Linked DNA regions of Homo sapiens: region 1 is linked to region 2. The links come from fine-mapping of genetic effects on gene expression. A gene starts in region 2. The other region holds a variant in brackets. All regions are shown on one strand. Distances are between the middles of the regions. Region 1 overlaps DYRK4 (dual specificity tyrosine phosphorylation regulated kinase 4). Region 2 holds the start of DYRK4 (dual specificity tyrosine phosphorylation regulated kinase 4).

What was found.
Region 1: its variant is fine-mapped to the expression of DYRK4 in cerebellum (GTEx, PIP above 0.99).

Annotation. Positions count from the first base shown.
Region 1 is chr12:4,603,668-4,606,585 of GRCh38, forward strand. DYRK4 (dual specificity tyrosine phosphorylation regulated kinase 4) reads left to right here. Exons shown (of 15, transcript NM_001394779.1): 11 at 1,247-1,419. Among named protein-coding and RNA genes, the nearest start is that of DYRK4, 43 kb to the left of the region's middle. RefSeq lists an enhancer at 1,154-1,493. The variant T/G (reference allele first, on the strand shown) is at 1,175.
Region 2 is chr12:4,560,834-4,563,751 of GRCh38, forward strand. It overlaps DYRK4 (dual specificity tyrosine phosphorylation regulated kinase 4), which reads left to right and starts at 1,375. Exons shown (of 15, transcript NM_001394779.1): 1 at 1,375-1,450. The coding sequence starts at 1,413. RefSeq lists a silencer at 1,210-1,504.

The DNA of each region.
Region 1 (2,918 bases), 43 kb after region 2:
GGCAGATCAATTTTTGAGGACATAAAACCTTTGTGTCTTTATGTATGAATCCTATAAGAAATTCCAGCTAAAAAGTAATGCTTCCCACAAAGAACTTGTATGTTTTCCCTTCTCAGATGTTGAAAGCTGTGTAACTTTTCAGTTTTCATTTATCTTGGCTGCCAAGATGCTCGGAACTGAATTCGTAATTATTTTATCCTTGGTTTCTAGCAGTCATTTCCCCCTTTGCATATTTTCTGACATCTTTTTTATCTTTATTTTAACTGTGAGGCAGTATCTAATATTGATGCTAGAATTAAACTGCCTACTCTCAAATCCCAGCTCTGTCACTTATAGCTGAGTAACCTTGACATTTTAACCTCTGTATGCCTCAGTTTTCTCTTCTTTAAATTGGAGGCAATAATACTACTTGCTTCACAGAATTAATGTAAGGGTTGAAAGGGCTTATCTATAAAAGTACTTGGAATCGTGCCTGGCACATACTAAACATAATGTAAATACCATTAAATCCATGTTCTAAAATACTCTGTGCATGTGTACTTTGCAAAGTACCACAAACACATTTGGGAAGCAGGCAGGATATAAACATTATTTTTATTAAATCTCTATTTTGTTTTAAATCACAGAATTATGTTCTGACAATAACCAATTTAAACAACAGAAAAGTGGTTACAGAATCCCTGCCCCTCCCCAGGTAACCAGAAACCCCAGTTATGCGGAAATAACTACCGTGTTCCATTTCTTCGACTTCAGTCTGTTCATCCTCACCTGTTGAGAATTTTCTTTCTATACAATAAGTGCACATGCTATATTGAATACAGACTTTGCATGCTCCCTTTCTAACTTGATATGCTCCCTTTCTAACTTGATAACTCTCTTGCCAAGTCACAAGACTCAGAAGCTGTCTACCCCAAATCAATCTGACAGTTTGAAAACTTAGTCTTATATTTGTCTTATGTTTTGTTTGTTTGTTATAAACTTGGCTCACTTAGATTCACTTTCCTACGACAGTGCCCACGTTGGAGTTCGTTATCAATAAAGCAGGGACAGTCACACCTCCTTTATAATCAGGTTGCTGGCGGATTTGATGCTGTGATGGTGTAATGGGAGTTCTAAGTGCTGGCCAGCTGCACTTCCCTTTCACTGCCAGCGGGGGCGCAGTCTAACTGAGAAG[T/G]TGTCCTGGGGGAGAGCGTTCTGGAGGGTAAGAAGTTTGTCCCACGAGGTTTCTCTTACTTTGCCTCCGCAGTATACACGTACATCCAAAGCCGGTTCTACCGATCCCCAGAAGTGATCCTGGGCCACCCCTACGACGTGGCCATTGACATGTGGAGCCTGGGCTGCATCACGGCGGAGTTGTACACGGGCTACCCCCTGTTCCCCGGGGAGAATGAGGTGGAGCAGCTGGCCTGCATCATGGAGGTACGCGGAGGGCTGGCGGTCGGCTCCCACGGAGACCGTGGGCTTGGCCCTCAGACACGGGGCTGCACCAGACTCGCCCAGGACCATGGCCTGCATACCTTGTTGTTGTTGTTGTTGTTGAGTATTCCCTAAAAGGAGTTTTGAAATTGTGTACTCCCTTGTACTTGTCAAGTCGACATCTAACGTTTTATCATAAATTTAAATAGTTGCAGAGGATGTCATTTCCATCATATTGTAAATAGTGACATTTTAAAATAAAATTACACCGCTCTTTCAAAAATATCCAAAAGAATGCAAAACCAGACGGACATGACACCCATTAAAATCTATCTGATAGTATGTGAACAGGTTCTTAAGAGTTGTGCCATGATTTTACTTTGTTCTTTTTTCCCTTTTGTTTCTACTCTTTTTTCTACTTCCTCTATGGAATTTTATTCTAATTTAATATACGTTTATGTTTAGAAACTTCTATCAATCATTATAGCTTTAAAAATTTCCTGATACCGTAAGCCTCATGTGTAAAAATTTCTTTCTGGTAAGTTACCATTAAAATATATCTGGTGTGCAAATTTTGATAATTATTGAAAATAAAATGTGAAATCTTATTGGGCATACAGCTCTTAGAAAAATGAATAGAGCTGGGTTTTTTTTTTTTTTTTTTTTTTTTTTCCAAATTAATGCCTATACCCATAGGTGAATAATGCTTCTTGCTAGAATGCCCGGGCTCGGGATCAATGTGATTCCAATTGCTTGGTGGTGTAGATGTGAACCCAGTGAGGAAGCCTGTTCTAATTAATGTCGTCTAATTCGGTGACTCCTTTTGAGTTCTGTGTAAGAATCAAATGGTGATCTGTCATCTAAAATTATGTTTACCAGCCTGTCAGCTGACAACCCGATTAAAATGTTGAAAACAAAGAATTGGAAATTATTTGACTTCAAAGTATGTGTATTGTTCAGGCATTAGTCATTCATTATGGGAAATGACAGTTTTCTGGGAAAACTATCTCCTAATAGCAAGGCTTGACCAAGACTCATGATATGATTATTAATTATATCTATTATGCTTTCACTTGAAAGCCATCTTGTTTTGGAAATAAATTAGACAAAATAGAAAAATAACTTTAAAAATTTTAAATTTTACATTTTAGGATTTTCCCAGTGAACAAAGATATTTTGTGTGCAAACACCAAGCTAGCTGGCTGGCTGGCTATCTATCTATCTATCTATCTATCTATCTATGTATCTGTATCTATCTATCTTTGCCAAATTTCTATTTTCCAGATTGTCTCAAAGTTACAGAGAAACACATATAGCCTTGAGAATGACTAAACATAGATAATTTCATTTCATGATCGAAACTAATAATAAAATATTAAAATAACTTAGGTAAAAATAGCTGTGGTGGAATGAACACTGGCCTGCGAGTCATTAAACCTGGGGTCTTAGTCCTGGCTCTGTCTTTTTGACTAGGCATTTCCCAGCTCTGGACTATAAAATGA
Region 2 (2,918 bases):
CATTTCCTAAATTTCTCAAAACTACTCTTCCATGTGCTCTCCCTTACTCTGAAACATCATCACTCACTATTTCTAACAGGCATCCTTGCCTTGATTCTTAACCTACTCGGGCCTACTTCCATTGTTATTGCCACAGAGGGTTTTATAAAATAAAGTCAGCATGAACACCCCTCTGCAGTCTGCACATACACACCTTACCCTGGTCGAGTTCATAGCCTACTTGGTGTCTGACTCCCCCTTTCCTGCTGCTTCAACCTTGTCTCTGCCCACGTGCAACTTTGATCCCTGCCCCACTAAACTGGGTGCTGGCACAATGGTACCAAGCTTTTCTATGGCTCTGGCCTTCAGAATAGGACTTGCCTCCTTTACGTAGACAACTACTGCCTGTCCTTGAAGACTCAGATTCAACTCAGCTCTTTCAGAAAGCTTCATTTGAATGTCTTTTCTGCCTGGACCAGACTGTGCACCTCCAGGTCAACCTACTGCCACTCAATTACAAATTTCCCTTTTCATGCTTTCTACAATCTGGTGCAGAGTAAGCACTCAAAAAGTGTTCAGCTGATATATGGATTTTACCCAGAACTTTTGCTATGTACTTACTTTTTTTCTTTTTCTTTTTCTTTTTTTCTTTTTTTTTTTTTTTTTTGAGATGCAGTCTCGTTCTGTCGCCAGGCTGGAGTGCAGTGGCGCGATCTCGGCTCACTGCAACCTCCGCCTCCCGGGTTCCAGCGATTCTCCTGCCTCAGCCTCCCAAGTAGCTGGGACTACAGGCACGCACCACCACGCCCCGCTTATTTTTGTATTTTTAGTAGAGACGGGGTTTCACCATGTTGGCCAGGATGGTCTTGATCTCTTGGCCTCGTGATCCACCCGCCTTGGCCTCTCAAAGTGCTGGGATTACAGAAAAAAATGTCTAAATAGAGACAGGGGCGGGGGGGTCTCACTACTTTGAGCAGTTTGGTCTCGAACTCCAGACCTCAAGTGGTCTGCCTAGGCCTCCCAAAGTGCTGGGATTGCAGGTGTAAAACCACCGCGCCCGGCCAGAACTTCTGTGATGTAATTCTGATAACCACATGCTTCGCTTGAAGAAGGGGAGAGAGTAGGGATAATTTCATGTGTCCGGTCTGGGCAACCAACTTTAAGTTCTTTATGCTGGGATTTTGTTCAATTCTTGCCCTATACTTTAAAGAACTGGGGCAAGAGAATGCGAGTAGGAGGACGAGGAGTATGTTCTTCAGGCTGCTACTCTGCAAGGTGGTTTGGGACCACAGCCTGAGAAAGCCCTTCCAGCTCTGGAGTCATAAAAAGGGCGGGAGCCGTTTCTATAGCGACGGGAGGAGGGCGTGGCCGTCCCTTGCCCTCTGCCGGGCTCTCACAGCCTCCCGCAGCGGCGGGCGGTCAGCGCCGGCCTCATGCAGCTCCTCCCGCCGCCTATCCGCACCGGAACAAAGTAAGGGCCGCGGAGGCTCGTACTTCACGAGCAGTCAGGCGCGAGTACGAGGCAGGCGACGAAGCTTCTGGTCGACGGGGTCGTGGGGGGAGAATGAAAAGCGTGCAGAATGCAAGAGCTGACCGGGGAATGTGGGTCAGAGAGAGGCGGGCTGTGGTGCGCGGACAAGAAAATACAGTTGTAGTTTTTGCAGCAGCTGCATCCCCGGAATCCGACGTCAGTATACTTCCATGTTAAGATGCTGTCGCATCGGCGACTCCAGCTGAGTGCAGGACAGGGAGCGAGGGGTTCTGAGGAACTCAGCAGACCTATCCTGGAACTGTGCTTCCAGCCCTCACTGGGACGCCAGACTTTCTTCCTCCCTTTCTTTCTCTTCTTTACTGCATGTCCTCTTGGTAGTCGTAAGTGGGTCCACGACCACACGCCTCGCGTGGATGAGGCTCTGGCAGGCATTACTCATGTTCCCACCCAGCCCATATGCCCGGGCACCTCTGTGCTCAACCAGGGCCCAGCCCCTGACACAAAAGCGCGCGAAGGTGTGTGTAGATCACACACCCAGAGCTGCCACTCAGGAAATTCCCAATATTAGCAAATCTTTCCTTAAAAAAGAGATGAACAATGCACAATTTGAGGGTTTTTAAAGGCTATTCTGTGACATTTGCTGCATTTGAAATGTCCAGCAGCCCCTCAAAGCTTAGGAAAACCGTGACCCCTCTGACATGTCTTAAGCAACGGACAGCATCACCAATATTAATTCAAGCTTCACTGTCCAGGCTTAAGTGGAGACTCGGCAAAAGCAGGAGGCCATTTAGTGGAAAAGTTCAAACCGTGGAAACAACAAATGAAAATGTCCTTTGTCTTGCTTGAGCGATTTGATCACCTACATGTGGTCGGTATGTAAAACCTAGGAGTTCGAAGAAATTCTTCAAACATGCACTCTACCTTATTGTTTCTGTTACTTAAATCTGTTGTTTCTCTTGTTTGTTTTGGTCCTTATGGAGAAAGCAGAGGTAAATCGGAAGGGACTCTCTAGCAATATGCCAGCCACTCTTCCCTGACTTTGCCCTCTCCAACTCCACATATTGTTGCCTGCAACTTGGCTAGAATGCATAGTCCTCAAGCGTGTGGAGGACCCAGTGCTGGGATTTAGTGGTTTTAGCTGACTCTAAGCCCATCGTGAGTGTGTTGTGATGGCTCCCCAAAGAGCAAATGCTGGTGGAGGCTGCATTCATAGAAATGCAATGACCACATCAAAGAATATGGTCGTGCTGCCTGACTTAGCAATGAGTAGAACATAATCCAGACTCTAGAAACTGTAGCTACTTTGAGATCACAAAGAACTGGAAAATAGGAACAACCACAAGGCAGGCTCTCTCTGTCAGGCCTGGGTGTGCCATCACATGAAGAGAGGTTTGAAAAAACTTCACAGAATGCCTGGAGATGAGGAGATGCAAGGGAGAGAAAGCTT